5 separate regions of the Homo sapiens genome follow, and regions 1, 2, 4 and 5 are each linked to region 3. The links come from fine-mapping of genetic effects on gene expression. A gene starts in region 3. Each other region holds a variant in brackets. All regions are shown on one strand. Distances are from middle to middle.

Region 1 (6,359 bases), 21 kb before region 3:
TCCAAATATAGGTAATGGTGAAATACAGTAATAGACTGGGAGGGATGGCAGGCTTGAAAAACTATTAAATCATATAAACAGAACAAAAGACAAAACCACATGATTATCTCAATAGATGCAGAAAAGGCCTTTGACAAAATTCAACAACGCTTCATGCTAAAAACTCAATAAATTAGGTATTGATGGGACGTATCTCAAAATAATAAGAGCTATCTATGACAAACCCACAGCCAATATCATATGGAATGGGCAAAAACTGGAAGCATTCCCTTGGAAAACTGGCACAAGACAGGGATGCCCTCTCTTACCACTCCTATTCAACATAGTGTTGGAAGTTCTGGCCAGGGCAATCAGGCAGGAGAAGGAAATAAAGGGTATTCAATTAGGAAAAGAGGAAGTCAAATTATCCCTGTTTGCAGATGACATGATTGTATATCTAGAAAACCCCATTGTCTCAGCCCAAAATCTCCTTAAGCTGATAAGCAACTTCAGCAAAGTCTCAGGATACAAAATCAATGTACAAAAATCACAAGCATTCTTATACACCAATAACAGACAAACAGAGAGCCAAATCATGAGTGAACTCCCATTCACAATTGCTTCAAAGAGAATAAAATACCTAGGAATCCAACTTAAAAGGGATGTGAAGGACCTCTTCAAGGAGAACTACAAACCACTGCTCAATGAAATAAAAGAGGATACAAAGAAATGGAAGAACATTCCATGCTCATGGGTAGGAAGAATCAATATCGTGAAAATGGCCATACTGCCCAAGATAATTTATAGATTCAATGCCATCCCCATCAAGCTACCAATGACTTTCTTCACAGAATTGGAAAAAACTACTTTAAAGTTCATATGGAACCAAAAAAGAGCCCGCACCACCAAGTCAATCCTTAGCCAAAAGAACAAAGCTGGAGGCATCATGCTACCTCACTTCAAACTATACTACAAGGCTACAGTAACCAAAACAGCATGGTACTGGTACCAAAACAGAGATATAGATCAATGGAACAGAACAGAGCCCTCAGAAATAATGCTGCATATCTACAAATATCTGATCTTTGACAAACCTGACAAAAACAAGCAATGGGGAAAGGATTCCCTATTTAATAAATGGTGCTGGGAAAACTAGCTAGCCATATGTAGAAAGCTGAAACTGGATCCCTTCCTTACACCTTATACAAAAATTAATTCAAGATGGATTAAAGACTTACATGTTAGACCTAAAACTATAAAAACCCTAGAAGAAAACCTAGGCATTACCATTCAGGACATAGGCATGGGCAAGGACTTCATGTCTAAAACACCGAAAGCAATGGCAACAAAAGCCAAAATTGACAAATGGGATCTAATTAAACTAAAGAGCTTCTGCACAGCAAAAGAAACTACCATCAGAGTGAACAGGCAACCTACAAAATGGGAGAAAATTTTCGCAACCTACTCATCTGACAAACGGCTAATATCCAGAATCTACAATGAACTCAAACAAATATACAAGAAAAAAACAAACAACCCCATCAAAAAGTGGGCAAAGGACATGAACAGACACTTCTCAAAAGAAGACATTTATGCAGCCAAAAAACACATGAAAAAATGCTCACCATCACTGGCCGTCAGAGAAATGCAAATCAAAACCACAATGAGATACCATCTCACACCAGTTAGAATGGCAATCATTAAAAAGTCAGGAAACAACAGGTGCTGGAGAGGATGTGGAGAAATAGGAACACTTTTACACTGTTGGTGGGACTGTAAACTAGTTCAACCATTGTGGAAGTCAGTGTGGCGATTCCTCAGGGATCTAGAACTAGAAATACCATTTGACCCAGCCATCCCATTACTGGGTATATACCCAAAGGACTATAAATCATGCTGCTATAAAGACACATGCACACGTATGTTTATTGCGGCTCTATTCACAATAGCAAAGACTTGGAACCAACCCAAATGTCCAACAATGATAGACTGGATTAAGAAAATGTGGCACATATACACCATGGAATACTATGCAGCCATAAAAAATGATGAGTTCATGTCCTTTGTAGGGACATGGATGAAATTGGAAATCATCATTCTCAGTAAACTATCGCAAGGACAAAAAACCAAACACCGCATATTCTCACTCATAGGTGGGAATTGTACAATGAGAACACATGGACACAGGAAGGGGAACATCACACTCTGGGGACTGTTGTGGGCTGGGGGGAGGGGGGAGGGATAGCATTAGGAGATGTACCTAATGCCAAATGACGAGTTGATGGGTGCAGCACACCAGCATGGCACATGTATACGTATGTAACTAACCTGCACATTGTGCACATGTACCCTAAAACTTAAAGTATAATAATAATAATAATAAAAAGAAAAACTATTAAATCAGCTCTCATTCATCTCCAGGGCCACTTTTAAGAAAGAATTAGGATTGTTTATTGTCTTACTCACTTTGGGCTGCTGTAACAAGTATCAGAGACTAAATGGCTTAAACAGAAATTTATTTCTCACATTTCTGGAGGCTAGAAAGTCCAAGATCAAGGTGCTGGCAGACCCGATGTCTGGTAAGGGCTCTCTTACTGATTGGTAGACAGCTATCTCCTTGTATCCTCACATGGCAGAGAGAGGTAGGAGTAGCCCTCTTCCTTTCATGAGAGCCCTCATTCCTCCACACTCATAAGGTCACTGCCCCGCAAATCCCCACCTCCTAATACCACTGCTTTGGGGATTAGGATCTCACACATGAATTTTGGGAGAGCACAAATAGTCATTCCATAGCATTTACTGTCTCCAGAGATTTTGCCCTTCCCACACACTCCCTAATGCAGTCTGTCCTGTGTTTTGAGACATGCATGCTCTTTGCATAGAGGAGCCTGGAACTCACTCATACCTCAAGAAATAGGCTCTGGAACAAAAGGCTAAGAAAAATGCCAGTGTCACATTAATTCAACTGTCTGTGTCATTTCATTTGTTTAAAAAGTAATGATGATGATAAATTTTTAATAAGGGAACCATGGGTACAGGGTTAAAAGACGCCGGGCGCGGTGGCTCATGCCTGTAATCCCAGCACTTTGAGAGGCCGAGACAGGCGATCACGAGGTCAGGAGATCGAGACCATCCTGGCTAACATGGTGAAACCGCGTCTCTACTAAAAATACAAAAAATTAGCCGGCCTGGTGGCGGGCGCCTGTAATCCCAGCTACTCGGAAGGCTGAGGCAGAATGGTGTGAACCCGGGAGGCGGAGCTTGCAGTGAGCGGAGATCCCGCCACTGCACTCCAGCCTGGGCCACAGAGCAAGACTCCGTCTCAAAAAAAAAAAAAAAAAAAAAAAAAAAATTACGGAAAGAAATCAAAACTGGGGACAGTCACTATCTCCCAAACTGGATGTCCCACGACAAGGGCTTCTTTGCCCTTCCACTAATGTGCCCACCTGACTTTCTGGTTCTTCTTGTC[C/T]TATCCAACAGATCTACTTGATACTGCCACACTTGTTGATCTCCACTGATCTCTGTTTCACATCCACCATCTGTACTCTTTGCTCCTCTCCTCCCTGAGCTTACTGTTACTAGGCTCTTCTGCTCTGCTTAAGAAGGAGCCCTCAGGGAACATACGACCTGCACAATTATTGCCCCTCTTATTTTCTGCAGACCCGTGTAATTACGGGTAACTTCCAATGTTTCCACTTTAATTATTGCTTTGGGCTGTGTGTAACTTCCAGGTTTGTTGCTATTTTAGGTCTAAACTTTTAAGAAATGTAAAGTATTAAAGTAATGGCCTTCGTGCCTTTCTTCTTAAAGATGGAAGTTTGGACAAACTTTATAATCAGTGTGCACATTCTATACAGAAAATGTATCTAGTACCACAACATGCTCAGCACTGTGCCAGGTGCCATGTAAGACAGGAATCACATGACATTCCTGTCAGATCAAAAGACAATATATTATAAAGAAATGAATTGAATATAATCAGGTATCAAAATACAAAATGCTTTGAATGCAATGGGTGTTCAGAAAAAGAAAAAAAAAAGCTACTGGTAGAGCTACCATAAATTTGGTCAGGGACTCAGAGGCCTAGAGAGGTGGGAGGGAGGCACTGGATCTAGAGGTTAAAGCACCAGATATAAATAAATGCACAGAAGAGGAGTAAGTTTGATTCAAGAAAGAGAAAGAACGGATACCCTTTACAAGGTTTAGTTTGTAAAGGACCCCATAGAATGAGAACTCTGACTTTGATCTACTGAGAAATGCAGCCACTGAAAACCACTGGATAGGGAATGATAAGGAGTTTTTCTGGTAAGTTACAAAGAATGGGGCAATGATCCAGTTCATATTCAGTTATTAAGAATAAACGACAAAAAGGAGTCAGAACAATACTTTGAACACAAAAATCACCCAATAAAAATGTTGACTACTATGAAATAATGTCAGGGACTAGTATGGTAGTAGTGGAAATGTTGGGAAAATAAATCTTATTGGAAAAACAGCAAGATGTGTTTCAAAATATCAGGAACAAAAAGACAACTCCAAGATTTTTTGAGAGGATAACTCTTATCTAGATTTTCCTATAGAAACACACATTTAATGACTTTGAAAACATGTACTTTACTGTATAATACTTATTTCAATTCACAGCCAATTCTTTTGGATTCCTAAATAACTGACCAACTTGTAACCCATTTCAATATTTCTAATCTATTCCAACATGAACAAAATTTTCAAATTGTTTGGGTAAATTAGCAAATGAATAGCTGTCCTCGATTTAGAATTAGAGACCTGGATTGACATCTTGGTTCACTCTAGGTAACCTTGAGCATGTTACTGAACCACTCCGAGCCATTTCTTACAAAATGGGACTACAAATCACTCTAAGGTTTGTTGTGAGGATTCAATGACATTAACACATTCAACACCTGGGCCTTATATTTGAAAATACTCAAAAAATTTCTTTACCTTCCTCTCCCCTTAGTAAGATAGGAGTTATAGTCTCTAGCCAGATCTAATTGTTCATGCTTTTTAGTATGTAACAGAATGTAATGAAAGAGTTGGAGAGTGAAATGGGAATGTGAAAAAAACTTATCTTTCAAATTTAAGAAATAGTAATCTAAAAATGACTTCACCCTGGGATTCAAGTTGGCTATCTTTCAGGGTAGTACATGAGAGACCCTAGCTCCCACTAGATCTACCCATACAAAGATGGGCTCCAATACGTGAATTCTTCATCTTCCCTTTCAGGGGACCATTTAAGATTCATCTTACACTTCCTATGATCCAACTCCTTCTGACATATTCAAGCATGCACATTTCTTGTTAGGAAAAGCAAGGTATAGGCCCCTAAAGGCTGAGTTAGTATCAGGTCATTTTTTGATCATTAAAAACCATTAACTAAAATACAAACAAGAGGGGGGGAAAAGCAGAATTTTTAAAAAAAAGCATTTTATGAAATCTGAAGGCAACATAATTATGAAGTTAAAATGTATTCATTCCTAGATTCAATTAACTAAAGAAATGCATTAGGGATTAGTCATTCACCAGTGGTTTATGTATAGTTTTAATATTAGCCTAAATTAAATATATGTAAGAGGATAATACTCTCCGGGGAAGGAAATATAAATCTAACTTCTATTTTTTATCCACACCATTACTAGAATAAAATTCATTAATTTCAGTGCAAATTCAGGAATTTTACGTAACCATTGAAGAAATTTTAATGTCCTACCATAAAATTCTAGATTAACAATTTTTAAAAAAAGACTGAATACAAACTATCTGAAGACATTAATCAAATTTTTAATGTACCAATTTATTGCATATGTCAGTACAGAAAAATAGAAAGTATATTTTAAAAGAAATTTATTGTAAAAAACAAATGTAAATGTTTGCTTGCCATGGTTAGCACACAATGTACTATGACATTCAAATTTGAGTTATAAAATTTTATCACTTCAAATAAAATATGGCAAATAACAAAAATATGATTTACATTATGAAATGGGATTAACTTATTTTATACTGAACATACTTGAATATGTTAAAAACAACTTGAATTTTCCATATACGCTGTACTGACAGAAATAATTATAAATTATGTTAAACACACACTCACCTGTTACATATGTATATACGGCACTTTTTGTAAAAAAGTGTCTCATACATGGTCCTATTTTTAAACTACATTTTAAGATACAAAATATAAATGGAGGTATATTTGCGCCATTTGGCAAAAATGTATAGACTAGTATTAAGATGACTGCATTTATCTTGCCATACAAATGAATATATTATTTCCAATTTGCTAAAACTATGTGTGTATATATATATATAGTATTAAGAATAAACAGAAGTACATTTCATTTTCTACCCTATCAATT
Region 2 (6,359 bases), 32 kb after region 3:
ATAAGACAAACGAAAGTCATATTTTTCTTATTGTTATCAAATTTGGAAAGCAAAACTTTAATAATACTTTGTTTGGTAAGGGCGTGAGAAAAATAGATACTCTCATCCTTTTTTGACAGAAATATTTATGTTTATATTATGTGTTGATTCTGATTTACTATCGGGGGGCGCATGGCAGTTCCTATCATCAAAATTTAAAATGCATTTATGCTTGGACGAAGTAATTTAATTTCTAGAGATTTATCATATAAATATAGTTACACATGTACAAAAAGATATTTTCAAGGTTAGTTACTGTAGAATTATAATGCTGAAGAAGAGGAAGTAATTTAAATGTTAATTAACAGAATTTTGATTAAATACATGATGATATATCAGGCAATGATAATATGCAACCATAGTCATGTGTTGCATAGCAACACTTCAGGCAACAAAGAACTGCATGTACAACAGTGATCCCATGAGATTATAATACCGTAGTTTTACTGTCCCTTTCTATGTTTAGATACACAAATGCATACCTTTATGCTGGAATTACCTGCAGTATTCAGTAGAGTAGCATGCAGTACAGGTTTATAGCCTAAAAGCAATAGGCTGTAGCAAATGGCCTAGGTGTGTAGTAGGCTGTACCGTCCGGGTTTGTGTCATACACTTTATGGCATTCCTAAAAATGACAAAATTGCCTAACAACCCATTTCTCAGAATGTATCCCTGTCGTTAAGCAACACATGACTGTATTTAAAAAGAATAAGGCATTTTGATGTGTACTGCTATGAAAGGATCTTCAAGATACATTAAGTAGAAAAAAACAGAAGGTGTAAGACACTATGTGGAGGCTTTCACCATTTGCATTGTTTTATAAAAGAGGAATGAACGAGTGTGCTCACACATGGTATCAGCTCTCTTCAGAGGTGCACGGGAACTGTCAAAGTGTCCCCTCCAAAGAAGGAAACTGAGGATCTTGGGAGACAGAGGTGATAAACAGAAGTTTAGCCTTTCTCTTTACACATTCATTTGTACCCTCTAAATTTTGTTCCATGTTTGTGTATTATCTATTGAAAATAAAAAGGACCAACAAATGAAATACCTATTTACACCAATAATTATAATCGCTGCTGTCCTTCGAGCTTTCCAAAACACAGGCCCTGTTGTCTGCATAGAGGCGTAGGAAACATTATTGCCCTTGCCTGTGTGACTGTGCAGTCACCATCTTTCTAATATAAAAGTGTTATCTTTGTATGAATTGTAGTATTGAGAAGCTATATCAATTTGGTTATTTAATATGTAGAAATTAAAAATAAAAAACATGTTTATTAAAAATATTAAAAATAGCATGAAAAAGCGATTTTAATCACATGGAAGTTCTGTTGGGGTTTAAGGCGTGTCACCTAACTGAAACAGCCAGGATTAAGAAGACTTGACTATATTCTTGACACATTTTTATAATGATTACAATTAGCTGGCATTCATGTTTGACATCAGAACAAGCCAAATTCAAATGATGTTCTGTCTTATTTTTCAGGAATAAGTAATAATTCTAAGAACTTAGTCGAATCACAACAGAGATTCACTGCTTTCTGTTCTTGCTACTATTGCACTGACAATGAACACAATTGGGCATTAGTTCTTGTACTGTAAATGTAAATAAAAAGATAAGACCTGGCATGTCAAAAATGGATACGCCAGATTGGCTCTGAGATGGGAAATGAAAGAAGAACTTGCCAAATGGGTTCAGTTTCCTCTCAGCAGTGTTGTTTTTCTCTGATCAATGTCACAGAGGAGATGCTTGGGTAAGATAGTTTCCCTCTAGAGTGTCTCTCAAAATGGGAGTTCTCCAAATATACTGGTTTTCTTTAGCGTACACTTATTAATTGAAGGAGTTGTCCTTTTTTTTGTATGGGAATCCCCAGTGTAAAATGAATTTGAACTTTTTTCAATAGAGAAATCTAGTGATGTGTTTCTTATCATATTGCCCCCTAAGAATAAGTTCATGAGGATATCACCAGCAAAATGCTTTTTCAGACAAGCTGTGAACAGCCAGGCACAAATGCCTGCCTTGGTAGTAACAGCTGCCAGATTATGATTCACTGAACAGGACAATAAATTTCAGCCTTATTGGATTTTGTTAATTATGTAAATGAGGTCACTGTAGAGGCAGTTGCTAATTATCAGTTACTATTGAAAACCTGATGGGAGAGGTGGAGATGATATGCATAATTTTAATTATATTCATTTATTTGAACAGAGTAAGAGCGAATTACAGTTTTCATGATCTAGTTCTTGGTTAGCACCACTCTTTAAAATGAAATCCCACAGATATGGAAAGAAGTATATGCAAGGATGTTTATCACAGTATTATTCGCAATAGGAAAAAATCTAGGGTGATCTAAACAGATGAATGAAAATAGAACATTTCATATGATACATAACTGTGGAACTATTGAGGAAGATTTAGTCACATACGTGCAATACAGTTGATATAATATGTAAGTTAAAAAGTATATTTTAAATGCATAGAAAAATAGAACTGTAATCATATGTCAAAATGTGAGCACTATATATAAGTGATGTAATTATGGGTGCTTTGTTTTGTGTTTTTCTGAGTTTTTCTAATACTTTTGAGAGGCAAAAGTTCTAAATAAATGGAACTGGTATGAACTTCAAAGATGATGCTGGGTACTGAAACTAAAGACCAAAATCAGAAATCTTATTTTGCTCTCCAAGTAGAATTCTTAAGATACGTCCTTTTTTCCTCTTAGCTCATTTTAATTGTTCAGTAAGTTAATTTACTAAAAAGTTAAGTTTAATTTTAACGATTTAATTTTTTAACAATTCCTTTATGTATTTCATGTTTTTATTAACGGGAAAGTGGGAGTTATGTTTTCTCTAGTTGTATGTGGTCAGGCATAATCTAGTAATTTATTGATAGTATAGCTGACACCAAATAGAAATTGGAATATCACAGAGCTTCACTTATTCTTCTCTGCTGTAAAGTCTAAGGTAAAAATGATGACGTGGCCCAGTCTACAAAGAAGAATTCTAAGGGAATGAGCCCTAATACACGCATTTTTTCCCACCTTCTTTAAACAAAGAACTGATCTTGTAGCACCACATATCA[G/A]AATGAAGTAAGATTAAAAAGTGAAAATTCACCAGGTGTTCCTTGTGAAAATGGTAGAAACTATGAGTTATGAAGCTAGCAACATACATCATATGCATTGTAACCAAATCATGTGATACCTGTTTTCTGTCTTCTCTATGGAACCCTTAGGATGAGCCTGATAACTTGGTGCAGTTTAGCATTCCTAACCCCCATGTAGATCATAAATCTTGCTTGAAGACCATGCCTATTAAGAGCAACAAACAAAAATCAGAAGAGAGAGAGAGAGAGAACAATTTTAAAAAATGGCTTAGGGCTGAGAAACCAGAGAACCTCATTTCCTGGTAATGAAAGACACCTCATGTAATGATCCCCATTATCTATTCATCATTGCTTCCTCTTCAACACTCAAATTATGCTTCCATTTCTCAACATGATATCCTTGTTCTAATCATCAGGCTCTCTCTCCATTGGTCCAGCTCCCTCACCAGTCTACAATAAATCATTCCTGGAAAAATACAGGAAATATACATGTATTACCATTTTTATCATTGCCTATGTTCACAGAGATTCCGGAGCACCCCTGACCCACCCCTCTGCCTGCAAATCTCCATAATATTTTGCATGGCTCAGTCCTAGTCTCACCTACTCCATTCGCCCCTCTAAACCTCCCCCTCTTGGAACTGCCGTTGTGATTCTAGCATAACACATGTAATTTGGTACTTAATCACTCTCTGATTTATCTAGATAGTCTCAATAGTTCTTTGGGGGAAATTCAGTCTTTTATATACATTTTTAGGTTTCTCCCTTAATTGTAACTTACAGTATAATAGTATACATTAAATACCTGTTAACAAATTGCCTAGATATTATTGTTCTGTTAAACTTTTATGCTTGTATTTTTGTTTTAGTAGTGTTTCCATAAAAACAAGTTGGTAAGTAAATATTCTATAAGAGTGCTGATTTTTCATAAATATTTAGATAAAAAGAAGCTCCATGGTAGGTCAATAATGTCTAATTTCAAAGGAAAAAAATCCTGGGCCAGCAAGGATAAGTGGAGGAGGAAATAAAGTTAACTTTAGAAATATCCAAAAACGAACTGCGGAAACTAAATGATTTAACATGTTTGGGTGGGGCCTGGTATTGGCAATAGCTGGATGCACCTGCTACCAATTTTAAGTTGTTGCAGTGTTGTTTATGTGCTTGGACTCTGGAGCCAGAGTGCCTGAGTAATATTGCTGGCTGAGTGACATTGGGAAATTAGTTTACTAAGAAAAAGCTGTGTGATTCTGGGCTGTTAACTTAGTAACTCCAAGGTTAAGTGTACGAGTAGGTGAAATTGTGACAACACAGGATCTCCCTCAAGGGACTGTTGTCAAGATTAAATGTGTGAATACCTGTCAAGAACTTAAAATAACCGCTTGATACCACAGACAGTTAAACTTTTGTGAGGCCTGAAACTTATACAACTTCCCAGCCTTTCTATAACAAAATTTTCAAAAATTAAGAATGTAAAATTAGATGTGAGATCAGGTGATATCACTGAGAAAGGCTGAGTAAAGACCTCAAACATCCTCCCCTCCAAAAGCTATGTAAACACTGGTAACTTGTCAACATCAACCTTTTCAGCATGCTGTTAATTAACTAAAGGCTTCAGCAATCCAGGGAAGTTATTTAAGAACAGCTTGTAGAATTGCTCCCAAAACTTTTTGAGGTAGTTTTATCTTTATTTTACAAAAAGAAGAAACCGAGGTTTGGGGTGGTTAAAATCTTGCCTTACTGTATTGAAAGTGGGAAACAGGCCAGGCTCTGTGGCTCATGCCTGTAATCCCAGCACTTTGGGAGGCCAAGACGGGCGGATCACTTGAGGTCAGGAGTTTGAGAGCAGTCTGGCCAATGTAGTGAAACCCCGTCTCTACTAAAAATACAAAAATTAGCTGGGCGTGGTGGCGCACACCTATAGTCCCAGCTACTCGGGAGGCTGAGGTGGGAGAATTGCTTCAACCAGGGAGGTGGAGGTTGCAGTGAGCTGACATTGTGCCATTGCACTCCAGCCTGGGCAACAGAGGGAAACTCCATCTCAAAAATAAAAAAAAAAAAAAAATTAAAAAAAAGAAAGAAAGAAAAGGAAGTGGGAAACAACTAATGTTATGGTGGAGAAATTTGGCAGACTCTGTCTTAGGTGATGGTCAAGGTCAACATGGAAAGTGATGAACCGTATTGATAGCATGGACCCTTGATATGATATGTGAGAATAACACTCTACTGCTGTGATTTTCTCCCCCAAAATTCATAATCCAAGCATAATCTTGAAAAATCCATGAGACAAATCTAAATAGAGAGACATTCTACAAAATACCTGACCAATACTTCTCAAAACTGTCAAGGCCATCATAAAACAAAAAAGGTCTGAGAAACTGTCACAGCCAAGAGGAGTGTAAGGAGACATGAAGAATAATTGTAATGTGACATTCTGGATGGGATCCAGAACAGAAAATTTACCTTGATGAAAAACTAAGAACATTCAAATGAAGTATGAATTTTAGTTAATAGCAATGCATCCACCTTGGCTTGTTAATTGTGACAATACTATTTTAATAGTACCATATTAACATCAAACGTTAATAGTAGGGGATACTGGGAATGGGGCTATGGGAACTCTACTATCTTTGCACCTTTTCTGTAAGCATAAAACTATTCTAGGCCGGGTGCAGTGGCTCACACCTGTAATCCCAGCACTTTGGGAGGCCGAGGTGGGCAGATCACGAGGCCAGGAGAGTAGACCAGCTTGGTGAACATGGTGAAACCCCGTCTCTACTAAAATACAAAAACTTAGCCTGGCGTGGTGGCACGCACCTGTAGTCCCAGCTACTCGAGAGGCTGAGGCAGGAGAATCGCTTGAACCTGGGAGGCAGAGGTTGCAGTGAGCCGAGATCGCGCCACGGCACTCCAGCCTGGTGACAGAGCAAGACTCCGTCTCAAAAAAAAAAAAAAAAAAAAAAACTATTCTAAAATTTTAAAAGGTTTATTTTTAAAAATCTGCCCCCAGAGAACCTGGGGGCATAGTTAGTATGCGGGGGAATTGATATTCAGACTCAAAGTGTTTGCATTATACAAAGCTACTGCATTAGTGCCCGAACAAAATGCCAGACTGAGTGGCTTCACCACAGAAACTTTTCTCACGGTTCTGACGCTGGAGAGCAGCTGGAGACCCAGGTATCGGCTGGTTGGGTTTCTCCTGAAACCTCTCCTTGGCTTGCCG
Region 3 (6,318 bases):
CGAGCCTCTGGCAATGCGCGCACCTTAGTTTCCAAAACAGGTATTTGGCTTCAGTTTGCTTCCCCTGGTGAGTGGTGAGCGGAGTCGGGGCGGCCGGCAGGGCTGCACCCCGGGCTGGTCCTCCACAACCCCCGGCGCTCGGCCCCCGCACGACCCCCAGGGGAAGCCGCACTAGCCCCGGGGCTCCCCCCACAGCCTCCCGGGAGGGTTTCGCGCCCGCCTGGAGGAGCCGGCGGCTCCCCGCGACCCTCCTAGAAGGAGCGGACCGGCGCTCGGGCCCCGCGGGCTCGGGGTCCCCGAGCCGCACTTACTCAGACTCGCGGACAGGCTGCGCAGTCGGCCGCGGGCACGAAACCGGGCGCCGCGCAGCAGCGTACCCCCGCGTCGCTTCCGTCGCTCCTCATCATCCTCCTCCAGCCCAGGGGCCGCTGCCGGCGCCACGGTCTAGCCCGGAGCTCCTGCTGCGAGCTGTGGCCCCACTTCCGGCCCCCGCTCGGGTGTCGCCGGCAAATGCCCCCGCCGGCTCCCACATAACCTGTTCTCCGTCTCCGCTCCCGGAGTGGGAACCCTGCCCGCTCTTCCGAGCATGCGCAGAAGCCGCTGCCAGTGAGCCCCCGCGACGGTGGCCCGGACGGAAAAGATACCTCGGCGGCGTGGGCCCGGCTCCCTGCTCCAGGACCTAGGGATCTTGGCCTTCCACCCTCCTCCGAGCACCAGGACTCCCTCCAGTTCCGTACCCGAGGCCTCCGTGGTGAAGAGGTGCCGGACCCGATGAGCTCGGGAGTCCACCATCGCTCTGCAAGCCGCAGGTTTGCGGAGCAATTTGTTCTGCCTGATAGGGTTGTTAAGGGTGTCGCAATGAGGTCCACGATTTAAAGCGCTTCCATAACTATTTTTCTCCTTTTACCTCTACGAGAGTGGACTGTCAAGGGCGAATGCAGGTTTTGTGAGGCCTGAACCTTGTGCCATTTGGAGAGCCCTTTTAAAGAAAAATAATGTAAAATTGTCTTATTTTTGCAAATTTTACCGAGGTACACGACCATGGGAACACCTCGTTAGGGCCCCTCTCAAGGCCTTGGAAGTGTTCGCAAAAATGGGCCCTTAAAACTTGGGCTTCATTAGCTTCGCTGTCAACCCCCCTGTGCACTGAAGTGTACACACTTGTTTACAGATGTGTGCCTCCCCTCCCTTGGGCTTTCCTTATTCTATGTCCCCTATTTTATATATACAGAGGATATTTCATAAATCTGTGGGTTTTTTTTTTTTTCCTTTTGAGATGGAGCCTCGCTCTTGTCGCCCAGGCTGGAGTGCAATGGCGTGATCTCGGCTCACTGCAACCTCCGCCTCCCTGGTTCAAGCGATTCTCTCGCCTCAGCCTCTGACCTAGCTGGGATTACAGGTGCCCGCCACCACGCCCCGCTACTTTTTGTTTTTGTTTTGTTGCTGTTTTGAGACGGAGTTTCGCTCTTGTTTCCCAGGCTGGAGTGCAATGGCAAGATCTCGGCTCACCGCAACCTCCCGCCTCCCGGGTTCAAGCGATTCTCCTGCCTCAGCCTCCGGAGTAGCTGGGATTACAGGCATGCGCCACCACGCCCAGCTAATTTTGTATTTTTCTTCAGTAGAGACGGGATTTCACCATGTTGGCCAGGCTGCTCTCAAACTCCCCACCTCTGGTGATCCACCCACCTCGGCCTCCCAAAGTGCTGGGATTACAGGCGTGAGCCACCAGGCCCGGCCTAATTTTTGTATTTTTTAGTAGAGACGGGGGTTCACCATGTTGGCCAGGCTGGTGTCAAACTCCTGACCTCAAGTGATCCGCTCACCTCAGCCTCTTAAAGTGCTGGGATTACAGGCATTAGCCACTGGCCCGGCCTGTGGTGTTGTTGTTATTGAACATATGTGTCTTGCTACCAGATGGAGAGCTCCAGGTCAAAGCTGGGTTCTTGAATCATAGCTTCCTAATCTTGATCACGGAATAAGTGCCAAGCATATATAAAGTAGACCATTTACATAAATAAATTAATAATCATGGCAACTCTAGAAGATACTTAGTGAAAAAAACCCTTGATTGTCTTTGAACCAATCAACTAAAATAACATGATGAAATGGAGACTGGGCTTTGAATCAATTTGGAGTTTGCCTGGTTTCATAATTCATGGTTCTTCTCATGTAACTAATACAAAGTCCAGCTTCTGACATTGTAGGAGCTCAGTAGAGGTTGAACAAGCTACAAATGTACACGGATAGGTACCCTCTCCTAAGATGGGCAAGTGGAGGCTCCTCTACCTTAACACTATTCATTTTTCCTCCAAAATAAATTGATAACTAAATTGAAGAGCAGATACTCACAAAACAATATCATGAGACTTTACAACATCACAGATGATTTTAGATATTCAGGCATATTAGGTCAATTAGACATACGAAGTAAATAACTGAATGTTCTTGGGCTAGACGGAACCTCCGCTACAAACTAGCACTGAATGAAATGTGTCAGTTTTGAAAAAGGAGGTTTTTATACATTACACAACCTCTAAGGGCACTTAACAGCTCTAATATGTTTTATCAGGGCCCACTGCAGCAAAATTTATTTTATTGTAAAGCAATATTTTATGCTAAAATAAAATAGTTCTAAAAGTTGTTTCCACCCCTCTTTATGAATAACTTCTCACTTCTCCATGGCGAAAGAGGACTGACCACAGCAAAAATTCGGTGGAAACCAACAGCTCCTGGAACACAAAAACTGGGGTTGTTTATAATCTCTCCACCCTGAATATCTAGCACCATTACTATATAATAATAGGTGCTCAATAAAGGTTTGTTAAATAACTTTATTTTTAAACCTTAAACAGATACTAGAAGAGTCCATAGTTGATTTCTGGTCATGCAACGGTTTATTTCTATATTGTAAGTTATGTATTGTTATGTATTATTTCTGTATTAAGAGAACTGAGACCACAGTAGCAAACATCATTTAAAAAAAAAAACAGCTCTATATAGTTTGCAAAAGCCTATTTTTTAAAAGTTTAAATGAAACAACCAACGTTTTGAGTTGGGAGGATGTCCTGTTCTCTCTTGGGAGTTTTCACAACCAGCGAAATCAGTATAGTTACCACTGTTTTACGTACAGAGAACAAGAATTAGAGGCTATCACTAGCCAGAGCACAAAGTGATCTTAGGTCTCCCTCGAGACAAAATCCACTGGCGTGTGGATCAACTGCTTGCAGAGAGCATCTGCTGCCGAGGCCAATAGGAGCCGTGTGTACTCAAGACCCTAACCAGGATCCTGCAGGTCCCGCCTCCGCAGCCCCACGGGGCTGCCGGCCCCCCCACCTCCCATCGCGAGCCTGGCTGCGCCGGCGTGCTTGAGCCCGGTGACTGCAAGGCCCCGGGTCTCCCCTGCGCCTGCGCGGCGAGCAGCTGGCGGAACCGGCATCTTCTGGCGCCAGCTTCCGGCTTAGCGGCTGAGCTTCAGGCTTGACGTCAGGTGGGAAGGGTGTGGGGTGGCAGGTGGGGGCGGTTGGGAGGTTGGGGGGGGTTGGGGTGGGGGGGGTGGGGGGTGGCAGATTGACGGTGTGGGGGGAGTCAAGTGGAAGGTGTGGTCCAGCAGGCGGCGAGAAGTCTGTGGGGCAACAGACCGGGGGAAGGTCTGTGGGGCGTCAGGCGGGGTATCTGTGGGACGTCAGGTTGGGGTCTGTAGGGCGTCACGTTGGGGGTCTGTGGGGCGTCAGAGGGGGGAATCTGTGGGGCGGCAGGTGGGGGGTGTTCGGGGCGGGGTTTGGGGTGTGTGTGGCGGCAGGAGGCGGGGGAGGTCTGTGGGGCGTCAGGTTAGGGTCTGTGAGGTGTCAGGCGGGGTTTACGTGGGGTGGCAGGTGTGGGGTGTGTGGAGAGTCAAGTGGGGGGTGTGGGGCGTCAGATTGGGGGTCTGGGGGATCAGATGGGTGGTGTCTGGGACGTCAGGCGGGGGTCGGGGGGTCGTCAGGCGGGGGATGTGTGGGGAGTCAAGTAGGGGAAGTGGGGCGTCAGATTGGGGGTCTGGGGGATCCGGTCGTGGGGGTGTCTGGGACGTCAGGCGGGGGGCCTGAGGGGCGTCAGGTGGGGGGGTCTGGGAGGCGTCAGGCGGGGGTCGGTCTATGGGGGCAGCAAGCAGGGTGTTTGTGCAGCGGCAGGTGATGGGAGTTGCCGAGTCCACAGCGCTGTAGACTGCGCCGCATTAGAAGCCTGGCCTCCTGATGCTGTGCTCTTCATCTAGACCCAAGCCCCAGGTCGTGGGACGATTTCTCCCGTTTTTGACTCCCTGGAACTGTATTGCCTGCTTTACCTGCGTACATGTTGATTCTTTCTCATGGCAACCCCGCAGGAAACCATCAAGATCTCATTTTACAGCTGGGATTCTCTGGTTCACAGAGGTAACGGAGCTTGCCCGAGGCCAGGTATTCACTGGGAATCCGTGAAGGGTTGGGGGAGAGTAGGGGGAACGGGCAGAGGAATGATGTAGACTCCTTAGGGATTTTCCATTTTCCGAGAGGGTACAGGGGGCATTGGAGCGGGAGAGACTTTAGGCTTGGAGGGAATTACTTTATTTCTCTTCTTACACTTGGTCTTTCATTAACTTTTGGGATCCCAAAGCCCTTCTAGCGTCTTTGTCTGCTCATTTCTTTTTGCTGAGATTGTCCCAAATTGTCACTAAGTGCTGTGGAAGATAGGCAGCTGTAAACCCTTTGTTTCCTAGGGAAACACAGCTTGTCAAGGGTTGCATGAAGGATACTTCAGTTGCATTCGTCACTTACTCCTTTTTTTCCTCTCTCTTTTTTAAGTGCAATAGCATAGCACTTAATCACCTTCCATAGTCACTGAATAAAACCTGCCGGTTTATTTTCATGTGTCACTTCAGGACAATTTAGTCAGAACTGAATGAATGATGAATCGTTATTGTGTACTAATTGCTTGCATTCATTCTCCTGAAAGCTTTGCTTATTGTTAAAGAGTGAAGCTTCTTCCCACCTTTTTATCTCGTTAATATTTTGCAATATTTATATTTTAAATGTTGCTTGGATCAGCAAGCATTATAGTATTAAAATTATCAAGACTTACTACTTTTTAAAGCACATTTTGTAGATTATCTGATTTTTATCTTCATTCTAATTTCTACATAGTTTTTAACCCCATTTTATACTTTAGGAAACTGAAGCTTAGAGAAATTAAGTAATTGCCCAGTATCACACAGCTGTTAAATGTTACCATCCACATTTGAACTCAGATTTATTAGAGTCTAAAACCTGAGCCCTAACCAGGAACCTCCTCATTTGTCTTACTGCAAATGGAATGAATCAGCTAAAATCCTCAGAATCCAAAAAATAAAATTAGCATGTAAAAATGAATGGAAGTCCTAATCTTTGACTTTTTATGCCGTTGTAATGAGCAAAAATACTTACGACTAGTTTATGGCAATTTTGGAATCCTTGTTATAGGCGTAGCCATTTTAGGATACATGTGTATCCACACCATTACCTACATTTTGTCATTATAAAGTAATTTAAGTCCTTGCCTGGGATTTGTTGAGCGAAACTTTAACTTTGAGACCATGTAGAATCTATAGATATATCTGTAGAAACTATATACCAATATTTGAATATTAAAGAAATATTAGTTAACCTACTTTATTTTACATAGTTTATATAGAAATTGTAGATATAGCATTGTGTACCCTGTTTACTCCCTTGAGGGAGCAAATTTTGGGAGATAGGGCAGTGAACATACATAACCAGGTGTTACAGTCAGTTATGCAAACCAGATTCAGAGAGAGGAAACAACAGTATATTCAAAGATAAAAGTTTCAGGAAAGTGGTCTGTCATGCGTTTATCCCTCGATCTAACCCACTCAGTAGAAGCTGGGTTTCCTTTGTCAGAAATTAGACTGAGAAGTGCACCTTTTTTCTCTATAGGCCACCAAATGGCTGTTGTAAACCATTGCCAGGGCAGTCAGAGCTACTGAATATTTTTAACCAAACTGAATCTCACCCACTGTGTGTCTGCGTGCGTGTGTGAGTGTGTGGTATGTAACCAGACCATAGCTTTCCCTAGTGTGCTTATCCAGGAGTCAACTCTAGGTGTTCAGTAATTCATTCAGCAAACCTCCTACATGTCTGCCACTAGAGCACAAATTACAGCACAATTCCTGGCCTCTAGATACTGACAGTATAGTAAATGTAGTATTGTAATTAGCCATTTGATTTATTTTACTGGATACTAGATAATGTAGCCTTGTGCATGTGTGTGTTGCTCATTTGTTTGCGAATTGGAAGATGGGGAGTCACA
Region 4 (6,359 bases), 45 kb before region 3:
ATAAATTAAAATTAAATGGACTGCAAATATTTTAATGATTTATTTGAAATTTCGCTTATTGAATGTTGAGAAGAGGATGGGTTTAGGAGTGTAGGCTCTGAAGCCAGAAGCATCTGTATGCCCAATTCTGCTTCGCCATCTTAACAGAATCTTTCTTGCCCCAAATCTAGACGCTGACTTTGTTTAGATATCTATCTCTGTGGGATGCCGACATAATCTCACACTTTAGGGAAGTCCTAATCATGAAATCTACTCACGATGACTCCATCTACATCACCACTGATTGCTAAGGAGGGACAAATGAGAGAGGCTTTTTACAGTTGGTTGTGAGGTGGTCTCCTGGGGGCACTGCTAAGAAAGAGTTCCTCATTCTTAAAGAGATTGACAAGAAAGAGATGCTCTTCTTCCACTAGACATTACAAGCCTGTCTGTGATCACCGAGAACTGCCATCCTGCAACTGCCGTCAGGCCCAGACTGAAACAGTGACGGCAAGAACAGGATTCTGGAGGGAACCTGGCTCTGTAAGGACATAATTGTCCTGCTGGATTACTCAACTCTTCATGCTTGTTATTTGGATCATACTATTTCCTAACTGTTTACGCCAATGTGAGACAAGATTAGGTGTTAATTCATCCAAAGACATCCTAAATCTGCTAGTTAGATTAGCAGTTGATTAGGATCCAAAGACATACTAATTCTGCTAGTTGTAAGAATTGTATTCTTACAACCAAAGAACTTTGTATAAGAGAGTTTTAAATGTTCTTTCAGAAATTTTCCAAATGTCCACTTTTTGAAACTACGGTGTAAAGAGAAAAGGTCAACACCCACAAGCTAGAAAAACTAATTCATTTGTTAAGAAGAGTCTTGACCGGGCGCGGTGGCTCATGCCTGTAATCCCAGCACTTTGGGAGACCGAGGCGGGTGGATCACGAGGTCAGGAGATCGAGACCACGGTGAACCCCGTCTCTACTAAAAATACAAAAAATTAGCCAGGCGCGGTGGCGGGCGCCTGTAGTCCCAGCTACTTGGGAGGCTGAGGCAGGAGAATGGCGTGAACCCGGGAGGTGGAGCTTGCAGTGAGCCGAGATTGTGCCACTGCACTGCAGCCTGGGCGACAGAGCAAGACTCCATCTCAAAAAAAAAAAAAAAAAGAGTCTTACATCCAGTTTTAATATAGCTATTTTTTAATAATTTAAGCTCTTTAATATGTTAGGAATCTTAAGAAAAATTATTATTATGTGAAGATGTGTTTAATGAATCTGTCTTTTCTATGTGGAACCAAAAAAACGTAGTCAACTCTTTCAGAAAAAAAAATGCAAAATTAGAATTTGTGCATCTCCGTGTAAGAAGGGAATAATTTCAAACTAAGAAAAAGTAAGAGAGATATAGTGTATTCTGAGAAAACTGCAACATGAATGCATCTTTCTTCTCCTTTACTAACAACTGTAAATTATCTTTCTTCTCTGAGCCAAATTGCAGTAGAACTTAGAGGTAATTGGGTGTTAGCGAGGGGCTTTTTGCTCTAATTGGCCCTAGATAGAGAAAAATAATGTTTGAGGTTTATTTCTCGAGAGTATTTGCAGTACTATATGTGAGACCCAAGTCTCAATGGGTCTTAGATAGAATGGTTGAGCAGAAATCTGTGGGCCCCAGGCAGTGGCTAACATCAGCCTCACAGGAATATGCCAAGTTTCCCGGGCCTCTGAGTACCCACAAAGGGAGTAAGTGCTTGGGGTTAGTCCTCCCTGCCCCTAAAGCTGAGAGACTATCAGGGGATCACAAGAAACAAAAGCCTCCCCCAAATGCCTCAGAGTAGACTAGAAGTTTCCCTGTTAGTCCAATCCTGGCTCATAGGGTTAGACAGGACTTGATTTCCCACCTCCTGAGGCTAGACTGCCCCAGCTGAGCCATCAAATCAAACACAGGAGGTGTTGAAGAGAGAAAGCTTGAAATTGGGATATCGGGAGAGATGCAAGAAGTGGCTGGACGTATAAATAGTGGCTAGACTGCAGTGTTTTTGCATGCACAGCTGTGGTTGTGTGAAATGTGAAAATGAAGCCATTTATATATATATTTTAAAAAGATTATGGCAGAGGGTAGGGTGGAAGTAGGGAAGATATGTACAGAAAGAAATGATAAACTAAGAGTGTTCAGCTCCATGAGTGCAGAAATGTGTGGTTTCTAGCCTATTGTATCTCTAGTGCCTGGAACACTTGTCCTTCATGGATTCTGCTATTCTCTGTTAAATGCTGACTAAATAAACGTCTTCCAATGAAAATTAAAAAAAAGAGAGAGAGAGGGAGAGATAAACCATCAAAGAAGGAGAGCACAGAACATCCCAGCATACACACAACACAAAGGGATGGAGACAACTTGAATTTTAAAAACTAATAGAGGACTTAAGATTCAACTGAAGAAA[C/T]TTTTTAGGAACTAAAAAATATCTCTATAGTTTTCAATTAAATAATTTAATACATGCATTGAAGAAAAGGATGGTCACTTTTGAGCACTGAGTTACTGGCCTGCAGGCTCAAATAGAAGTAAAATCTCAAAACTCAAGAGTGTTTTGCAACTCACATGCAAGAAAAATGGGAACATAAAAGGAGGGAGAGGATATAGACTAAATAGAGGCAATGACATAAAAACTTACAGGAGAAAAGAATAATGCTTCTTAATCTATGAAAGAGCTGAAACTACAGTTTGAATTAGCTTATCAAGTCCTAGGTTAAAATGCTGAGAAAATCTGTATGGGTAGCTTTTTGGAAAAGAAAAATAAGCAAGTAGGTCGGGCGCGGTGGCTCACGCCTGTAATCCCAGCACTTTGGGAGGCCGAGTTGGGCGGATCACGAGGTCAGGAGATCGAGACCATCCTGGCTAACATGGTGAAACCCCGTCTCTATTTAAAAAAATACAAAAAATTAGCCGGGCGTGGTGGCGGGCGCCTGTAGTCCCAGCTACTCAGGAGGCTGAGGCAGGAGAATGGTGTGAACGCGGGAGGCGGAGCTTGCAGTGAACAGAGATCGCGCCGCTGCACTCCAGCCTGGGCTACAGAGGGAGACTCCGAGAAAGAAAAGAAAGAAAGGAAGGGAGGACGGGAGGAAGGAAGGAAAGGATGCTGAGAAAAATCGACCCAGGTAAGGTCTGATGGTATTACTGAATATAGAAAGAGTTGTTGGGATATGATGAAAATAAAGTATATAAAATCTTGTAAAATGCATTTAAAGCTATTTTTATGAGAAAAATCATATCTTTGATGGCATGTTTTAAAAAGAAGAATGGAAAGAAATAATCTGAGCATACAGGTCACAAAGCCCTAACAAGTTAAAAGGTGAAAACAAATTAAGCTTAAAGATTGGAGTAAAAAATATAAAAGAGATTAATGAAATAAATAATAACTTTACAATAAAGAGAATTAAAAATTGGTTATTTGACATAACAAATAAAATTAATAATTTGTAGTAAGACACAGTACAAAGGAGAAAGTATGAAATTTCAATAACAGAAATTTTAAAAGCGGGACATTTTAGAGCTATTACAGATCCTAAACAGGTAAGAGGATATTATGAATAAATTTGTGTGTAAAATTAAGGGGAAATTGGAGTATACATGCATTTCTCTTGAATACAAAAAAAAAATGAAATAACAAAGTAGCTAAACCAATTGCAAAGGAAGGATATTCACCATCCACTCTTTCAGTATTGTTCTAGGTACTAGGCATACAAAAATTAAAACAGAGAGAAAAAAAGTCAGAAAGAAAAAAGAAAACTCCTGTGTCATGGAGTTAAATTCTATTGTATAAGATCATTTTAAATGATTTCAATTTTTACTTGATAAATTTATACAAAACAGTTTCTCATCTGATTTTCCATTTCTTTTGTATCTGTGGTTAAGCATTTTTTTTAAAAATTGTCTGCATACAATTTCTCCTTTTATTCTTGAAAGAATAGCAAAAACTTGTCTGTTTTGTTAGTGTCAAATAAGTAATCAGCAGATAGTTCTGTTTATTATCATTATGAATTGTCTCATTCTACTTGTTTGTTTTGTTGTTTTCTTTAGTCTGACTTCTTCAGTTGAGTGTTCAAACATTCATTTCTTTTCTTATTTGTTGATAGGCTATTAAATTTCCCAAGAGCATTGCTTAGTAAAATTCAATGATATCAGGTATGTATTGTGTTTTATTATTATTGTGTTTTTTATATATTGTGCTTATTATTTTCTAGAAACGATTAATAATATAAATTAATCTAAAAATTTTGTTTGGCTTTCCAATTTGACTTAAAAGTTATTTAAGAGATATTTGTTAATTTGTTTTAATTTCCAGAAATTTTCTTCATTTTTCTCACTAACTTCTATTTTATCGTATTGCATTCAGATAATTTTCTCTCACAATTTCTACTTATAAAGCTTAATCAGAGTTTCTTTAGGGATTAATAGTATTGTCATTTGTGTGAATGTAACATAGCTACTTGAAAAGAAGGGATATCCTTAATAATTTTATTATTTTAGTCTACAATATCTGCATTTTTGTTTATATGATGTCATAGAATAATAGAGATGAGTAAAATTTCCCATATCTAATGTTTTTTCCTGTGTATTTCCAGGTGTTTTTCTTGTGGTTTCAGCTTTATGGTTATTGATGCTATATTATTTAACATTATAACACTTAGTGCAAAGATATTAAAAAATGAGAGGGAGATAATAAATTATGTCTATCAAAAAGATAACTTTTTCCCCAAATGCACAAGTGATACTTAAAATTTTAATCAAAATGGACAACTTTAAAAAGTAGTCTTTTACAGGCTACCATGACGGATAGTTTGCAAAGACTGGAAGAACTACTCTCTGGTGGCATGCCTGTTTGCAATGTGACTGATAATAAGGTTGGTCTGTCTCCTTATCCCCTAAATCTGAACTGACCTTGTGAATTGCTTGCTTTGACCAGTAGAACACACAGGACTGCCTCCCTGAGACCCGCATGCAAGAAAGTCAGTCTAGCTTACTGGAGGATGAGAAGATACATTGAAAACCACTAAAGTGCCTGAACCACCTGCCAGCACTTACTGCCAAATGTGTGGGTGAGGCTATCTTGAACCCCCAGCCAGCCTGGCTGTCAGAGGCATGCGGCCACACACATGAACTCAGGTGGAGCTGGCACAAGAGCCACCTGAAAAACTCACAGAATTACAAAAATAATAAAGGGGAGCTGTTACAGGGCACTAAAGTAGGGTGGTTTATTACTTAGTAATACCTAAGTGATATATCCCATTCATTGATTATAATCTCATAAAAATAGAAATCATTACAAAAAGGTGATCAAAGAGTTGCTTACTTGAAAATGTAAAAATACATTCATAGGTCAAGTTTGTGTCAAAGAAGTATGCGAAACTGAGGTTAGAAATTACCTAGAAAATCACAAAAGGGAAAACAACTTATACCAAACATATGAGCCAGAGCAGTACTCACTAAAAAATTATAGCATTGAAAACAAAGCTATAATATAAACACAATGATGTCCAAAAGAATTAATTCTCATCCAAAAGAATTTAAAAAGGAATAAGCCAAAATAATCCAGGTAATGAAATTAAATAAAGATAGCTAACACTGATGATTAATTATATATTGTTAGTTAAAACGTGAGCAAAAGTCATTCTTTATATATACATATACATATACAAAAGTCATTCTTTATATATACATTCTTATATATACATTCTTTATATATACATTCTTTATATATACATATATATGTATATATACATATATACATATATACGTATACGTATACATATACATATACATATACATATACATATACATATATATGTATACATATATACATATATACATATACATATACATATACATATATACATATACATATATACATATACATATACAAAAGTCATTCTTTATATATACATATGTCTATATAAAGAATGACTTTTGCTCACGTTTTAACTAACAATATATAATTAATCATCAGTGTTAGCTATCTTTATTTAATTTCATTACCTGGATTGTTTTGGCTTATCCCTTTTTAAATTCTTTTGGATGAGAATTAATTCTTTTGGACATCATTGTGTTTATATTATAGCTTTGTCTTCAATGCTATAATTTTTTAGTGGTTTCAGCTTTATGGTATGTGTATATATACACATATATATGTGTATACGTATACACATATATATATGTGTATATATACACATTATATATAATGTGTATATATACACATATATATGTATATATATACACATATATGTGTATGTGTGTGTTTGTGTGTGTGTATATATATATATATATATATACACTTCAAGTTCTGGTTTATATGTGCAGAGCGTGCAGTTTTGTTACATAGGTATAC
Region 5 (6,359 bases), 24 kb after region 3:
GGAACTGGCAGCCTGGACCCCAGGTTTCAGGCCATCCCTGGCCTGAAGGTGAGGTTTCACAGGGACCTGCCCCTTCCTGCCTAGGAATCTGTCTGCCTCCTGCCACCATCAACATTCTGTCCACAGTGCCCAGTCTGTTTGCACTGAGTGGAACCCTCAAACCCGTGCTGAGCCTCCCTCTGCCCCATAGCTTCCTTTCCATGCTGATTGGTGTCCAAAGTCCAGAGGGAGCTGAGGCAGCAGGTGGATGGTGTGTCAGTGCCACCCCAAGTGTATGCACACCTAGCTGGGTCACGACAGTGCCTGGGCTTGGCCACAACTTGGCTCTGCACTGGAGTGGGCACAGACAGCAGGGAGAGGCCAGGCAGCAGGAGCAGGTACTTCTAGGCCTGTGGGGGCAGGGGTTTTCCCAGGTCCATGAGAGTGCAGGGATCCCTGGGTCCAGAGCCATGGCTAGGCAGCTGCAGTTGCACCCAGGAGCATGGGCTCCCACCCTGCCAACTTGGTAGGGCATGGGGCTCCCACTGGGATCTCCTGCTCCCGGCCCCTGCTGGCTCCACAGAGCGCCCAGCCACACTTCCCCCACTGCAGCTGGCATCCTCACAGTGGCCGCTTCAAATAGGCTGCAGCCACCATCGATTCCAGGTCTTTAGATAATTAACTCTTTCAACCAATTGCCAATCAGAAAATCTTTGAATCCACCTACGATCTGGAAACACTTGCTTCATGTTGTTCCACCTTTTCGGGCCAAATCAGTGTACACCTTACATGTAGTGATTGATGTCTGTCTTTAACTTCTGCCCCCTAAAATATATAAAATCAAACTTTAACCCAACCACCTTAGGCACATATTCTTAGGACCTCCTGAGGCTGTGTCACAGGTCAAAGCCCTCACATTTGGCTCTGAAAAAATCTCTTCAAATGTTGTACAGGGTTGGGTTTTTTTCATCAGCAACATACTGGGGTAAAACTGGATTAGGTGTCCTTGTTGAGGCATAAGTCAGAGCTGTAGAGTTTGGCTTTGTCAAATCCTGCTGGAACATATTTACCTGCATGAATCAGCTTCACATGCATGCTGATGGAATTCATTCCTGGGTAACTCATTTTGGGGGTGAAATCTGAAATACAGAACAGTGATAGGACAGTTACCAGGGAAGCCTTGAAGTTTGACCAGGAAAATTTTCAGTGTACATGGCAACTTTCTTTAAATTCTGAGGAACTGACATGAGCAGAGGGAATGTGTTCTCTCCTGATGACTTCCGGAGGAGAATAGGAATACTGAAATTTGAAAATGGCAGATTTTTCCACAATAGGAGAACAGAATATCAGACTAAGTATAGGACGAACTGCCTCCAGAGCTGAGTTATCTGTATATTGGAAGCCCACTCAAGGTGGCCAAGCCCGCTGAATTCTGCAGACAGAAACAACAAAGCATGGGAGATTGGGACACATGCATTTAAGGTCTCATATGTCCATGAGATTTTTGCCATTATAGTCTAGTTTTTATGTGCTTTTCTTTAGTCATTCTTAGCTCTCCCTAATTAGACTGGGTTCTCTTAAAATCCCAAGATAAGAGTCTTCTCGTAGAAGCTTTTGATCTTCTACATTCTATGGCCAGTCACTGAAAAGTTCTTTATCTATCAGCTTAGCTTATTTACACTGTTTCAGTGTTGTGATGTAATCCCATTTTCATTCACAGGTTAACTCAGAATAGGTTCATTATATACCTTCTATGTGCAAAAGCATGATGCTTGGCACAGTGTGGGTTCAGATATCAGAAAATTTTTATCCACTAAGAGTTTTTAATTTAGAAAAAGAAATATGATTGCAATATTTGATCATATATTAAACTAAGCAGAGTGATATTAAATGTGATGTGTCCATATTTGGAAGATTCTTTTTTCTGAGATGATCCAGGAAAGAAAGTGGCACTTGAGTTGGTACTTTAAGGATAGAGAGGAATTGATAAGGATGGGTCAGAAAGAGGCCTCCTGCTGCATTGTTGGATTTTAATATTTTAAGGTGGTTTGAGTCTTACAAAGAATGATTTATTTTGTTTTTGCATGTTTTAACTGCCTCTCAACAATTATTTTTGGCAATTTGAAATATTTGTTTTGTTTTCAATGAGTGAACTTTACAACTAAATATAATAATACCTTTAATGCTTTATTTTTCTCTTACATTTTTAAAATGTACTAGCTATTTAGTTCTCTATTAGGGCTATATTGGAATTAAATATGGCCCTGACTTTTTTTTTTGTCTCCTCTGGCTTGTATTTTGATAGAATATTCTTTACTTTCAGTTAGCACCTAAAATGAAATACCTTCTACTTTCCCTACATTCTTTCCCTTCTCTTCCCATTTTTATAATTGTATATATCTAGCATTATATGTATTGTCATTCTTATGTCCATGTTTTAAAATGTTTCAATGAATATTATTGTGTCAAAACTTCTTTGATTATTTGTTGGTGGATTGAGACTTGTTTTCTACAGATTCATCAGGTAATACTTATGGAAACAACTTCCCAAATTATTTCATTTTTATAATAGCTTTACCATGACTTTTATGTCTAAAGTTTAGTTAAGAGGAAATAAAATCAAAGGCTCACATTTTCTTCATTTAAATATCTTAACTCATTATTTCATTGTATCTAGCATAATGCATTGCTATCAAAAGTCTTGGTATCTTTTTCTTTTAAGGAAGGGATTTTCCCTAGATGCCAAAATAATTTATTTTTCAAATGTTTCAGTTATTTTCTTAGAATGTTTTTTGGTGTTGAGCATTCAGAATTAGTTCTTCCAGGTACACTGTATGCCTCTTTAAAATATAAGTTCAAGTCTTTTATTATCCAAAATAGATTCTTGGATTATACACTTAAGCACTTTTTCTAATACTGCTTTAGTTTTCTTCTTTGAGACTCCCATTATATGTATGTTGACTACTCTTTATTTTCCATTTCTCTCACTTTCTCTAGAATACCTTTTATCTCTTATGTCCTTGCTTTATGATTCATTTTCTTCAAATTTTTATTTCTATTTTGATTTCTCATACAATAATTTCTATGCTCTTATGTTCCTTTTAGTTTAGGCTTAATTTCTGAAATAACATTTTCTTTTATTTCAAAATATTTTCTGGGCATACTCAACTCTCTCTTAATGTTCTCCTATTGTTCAGATATCTCAGTACTGATGTTTTCTAATTTTGATGTATATTGCTTTTCCTGCATATATTTAATTATTTTCATAATTTACTATGGCATTCTTTGAGATGATAGATTATATGTTTTTTCTTTCTTTCTTGGTTGTATTCTTTAGCTGTGTCTTCATTTTCTATAGAATGTCACTGATATGGTTTGGCTATGCCCCAAATCTCATCGTGAATTGTAGCTCCCATAATTCCCATGTGTTGTG[A/G]GAGGTGCCTGGTAGGAGGTAACTGAATCATGAGGGTGGTTCCCCCATACTCTTCTTGTGGTAGTGAATAAGTCTCTCGAGATCTGATGGTTTTATATTCACTTCATTCTCATTATCACTTGTCTGCTGACATGTAAGACATCGTTTTCACCTTCTGCCGTGATTGTGAGGCCTCCCCAACCATGTGGAACTGTGAGTCCATTAAACCTCTTTTTGTTTATAAATTACTCAGTCTTGGTTATGCCTTTATCAGGAGCATTAAAACAGATTAAAATAGTTACTCATATTTTGACCTCATCTTTCTTACAACATCTTTGTATGGATTTGGGCTGCAGACCTTGTATGGTGCTATTATAGTAAAGTAAGATTGATTTTCCTGTACGTTTAGAAAGAAGCTTCTGTTGTTCAAGATTTGGACATGAGCCAGGGTGAACTTGCTAGCTTCATATTTACGGGGTTTCCTCTCTTGTTGTTTCTGCAACATACTAAAAATGCAGCCTTTTCATGTAACCACCTCTCCAATACTTTAAGCTATCCATCTCCTCTTGTCTCCTCCATCACTAAACTTCCTATTTTCTTTACTTCCAGCATTTCTGTTATGTTAAATGGGAGACATGTTCCTCCACAGATCCCCCTCAATATGAGGCTCTGTCCTTCTCTGAGAATTTCAGAAATCCCTAATGACGTAGGCTTCCATAGCCCAGCCCTAAATGCTCCACTGACATCCAAGCTTTCAAATGTCCCTTCAAATTCTAAGCACTGTTTTCAGATCCTTCACCTTCAGTGGGGACTCCTCTTTTTGAAAGTGAGTGTTGGTAATTTCTGAATTTCCAGTTTGTTAGAACCATCAGAAGTCCCCCTTGTCTTCCTTCTTCTTTGTCTAGTACAGCTGCTGTGTCCACACAGTTCTTGGTGTTGTAATTGGCATAACCCCATCCCCTTATATGCCACAGTTTGTAGGATACTTTCCTCCTAGTTTTGTTGAAAATGTTCATTTTGGAGTTTTTTTGGTAATTCTAGTTGTTCTGTCTGTTTTAATGAATAATGTAGATAAGACTTGAAAGCTCTATCTCTTTTGTTGTTGCTTCCATCTTGTGTTTCCAGGAGACACATTTAGAATTTTGCCTTTGAGAGCGCTGTTCTCTAACATTTCTACATTAAGGAAAGTTTTATCTTGAATTGGAAATTCACCCCTTTTTTTAGAAAAAAAGAAAACAAAAAACCTGGCTGTGTATTCCCAAAGGGATTTAAGAAATAAAGTATTTCTATTTCTGTTTTTTTTAAGATTTAAAAGCATTAAGTTTACATTGTTCTTAAAGCTTTACAATTACACTGTATGAGATCAATTTGTAAAATGGGGATATTTTATTCTAATTAGAGCAACACTGATGAGGTGCCATCTTGGTTTTTGTTTATGGCGTCTTGCTTTCAGGAGCACTGCAGTGCAGGAATGTCCACACACATCCAGAGCAATGACGCTGAGCATCAGGTGTGGGTCTGGGTGAACTCTAGAATCCACATTTTCTCCCTATTCCTGTCACTCATAGTGCCTCACACTCAGGAAGAGTAAATGATGGTTTGGCATCAAACACACCTAATTTTAGGCATTAATGACATATGGATTTTTCTCCTCGTTTGTTAATTGCTGTTGTGTTTTTCTGATACCACCAACATTGAACAGATTGGGAAGTTATGTTTATTTGTTCTTGAATACAAAAACAAATGTCCCCCAGAAACAATTGCAAATGCATTAAATCAATCACAATACTGCCAGTTTATAATGTCCAGCTATAGAGTAGGGAAAATACGACTCCCTTCTTCCCACGAGATTCTAATCTGATTTGGGGTTAAACACCGGGGAAATAGAAGTGCAAAGGAGGCCGGGCACGGTGGCTCACGCCTGTAATCCCAGCATTTTGGGAGGCTGAGGCTGGTGGATCACGAGGTCAGGAGATCGAGACCATCCTGGCTAACACGGTAAAATCCCATCTCTGCTGAAAATACAAAAAATTAGCCGGGCGTGGTGGCGGGCGCCTGTAGTCCCGGCTACTAAGAAGGCTGAGGCAGGAGAATGGCGTGAACCCGGGAGGCGGAGCTTACAGCGAGCCCAGATCGCGCCACTGCACTTCAGCTGGGCGACAGAGTGAGACTCCGTCTCAAAAAAAAAAAAAAAATTGCAAAGGAATGGGGGCTTCATTTTACCTCTAAATCTGAGAATCTCACTCATGTTATCTTTTCTGTATCTCCTCCTTTTCCATCCCATTTGGGAGTGACCATTTATACCAACCAACCAAGATAGTGTTGTTTACTTACATTTGCAACTACATTTTGTCCATAATATCTCAGTTTATTAATAACTTAAATGAATCTTATCTCATTTGTTCTGGGAGATAGGTGTAATTATGTTCCCCATTTGAAGGAGTAACCTAAGACTTATTCATCTAATAAAATACAGTGTTCTTAACTTGTCTACCTTCTTTCTGAATCATTTTTCATACTGCCATTACATTTTCCTTTTTAAAATACTATGTATTTTATGTATGTATATATTGTTATAAAATTTAGTCCAAAATCTGTAACATGACATACATGATGCTAATAAATAGCTATTCTTCAGTGAGTGTTTATAGTGTGTCAAGAATTATCCTAAATTCTTTACCTACACTATTAGTTCACTTAATCCTCACACCAAAGCACAAATAAGTACTATTCTAAACTTGATTTTATGGAAGAGGTTATAGGGGCACAGATAAGTTACATAACTTGCTCAAGTATAGAAAACTGGTAATGTATGTATTCAGGATTTTAACCCAGACATCTGCTTCACCATCTCTATAGTTCACCACTGCCTAAATGCACTCAATATTTCAAGTCCAGTTTATACCCTGATCCATACGTGGCATCAGCCGTTTTGCATGCAAAATGTTACATCCTCAGTTTCTCTAAT

Alleles and levels. Alleles are on the strand shown, and positions count from the first base shown. SD is a standard deviation of normalised expression in the study named. Not every link is listed here.
For the expression in visceral fat of the gene that starts at base 3,435 in region 3, C is the high allele of the variant in region 1 and T is the other (small effect, 0.24 SD a copy in GTEx).
For the expression in transverse colon of the gene that starts at base 3,435 in region 3, allele T in region 4 goes with a lower level than allele C (small effect, 0.30 SD a copy in GTEx).
For the expression in cerebral cortex of the gene that starts at base 3,435 in region 3, allele G in region 5 goes with a higher level than allele A (small effect, 0.39 SD a copy in GTEx).

What was found. PIP is the estimated chance that this variant, and not a neighbour inherited with it, causes the effect. A credible set is the group of variants that fine-mapping cannot tell apart.
Region 1: its variant is the best candidate, but not a certain one, in a credible set for the expression of LIG4 in visceral fat (GTEx, PIP 0.61).
Region 2: its variant is the best candidate, but not a certain one, in a credible set for the expression of LIG4 in whole blood (INTERVAL, PIP 0.51).
Region 4: its variant is the best candidate, but not a certain one, in a credible set for the expression of LIG4 in transverse colon (GTEx, PIP 0.72).
Region 5: its variant is the best candidate, but not a certain one, in a credible set for the expression of LIG4 in cerebral cortex (GTEx, PIP 0.52).

What each region holds. Positions count from the first base shown.
Region 1 is chr13:108,233,655-108,240,013 of GRCh38, reverse strand. ABHD13 (abhydrolase domain containing 13) reads right to left here. Exons shown (of 2, transcript NM_032859.3): 2 at 5,771-6,359. Among named protein-coding and RNA genes, the nearest start is that of ABHD13, 18 kb to the right of the region's middle. The variant C/T (reference allele first, on the strand shown) is at 3,449.
Region 2 is chr13:108,180,794-108,187,152 of GRCh38, reverse strand. No RefSeq gene overlaps it. Among named protein-coding and RNA genes, the nearest start is that of LIG4, 32 kb to the left of the region's middle. The variant G/A (reference allele first, on the strand shown) is at 3,119.
Region 3 is chr13:108,212,653-108,218,970 of GRCh38, reverse strand. LIG4 (DNA ligase 4) reads left to right here and starts at 3,435. Exons shown (of 3, transcript NM_206937.2): 1 at 3,435-3,487; 2 at 4,361-4,433. ABHD13 (abhydrolase domain containing 13) reads right to left here and starts at 579. Exons shown (of 2, transcript NM_032859.3): 1 at 312-579. RefSeq lists silencers at 57-296, 3,233-3,372 and enhancers at 577-906, 3,216-3,510.
Region 4 is chr13:108,258,079-108,264,437 of GRCh38, reverse strand. No RefSeq gene overlaps it. Among named protein-coding and RNA genes, the nearest start is that of TNFSF13B, 8.5 kb to the left of the region's middle. The variant C/T (reference allele first, on the strand shown) is at 2,421.
Region 5 is chr13:108,188,705-108,195,063 of GRCh38, reverse strand. No RefSeq gene overlaps it. Among named protein-coding and RNA genes, the nearest start is that of LIG4, 24 kb to the left of the region's middle. RefSeq lists an enhancer at 5-505. The variant A/G (reference allele first, on the strand shown) is at 3,413.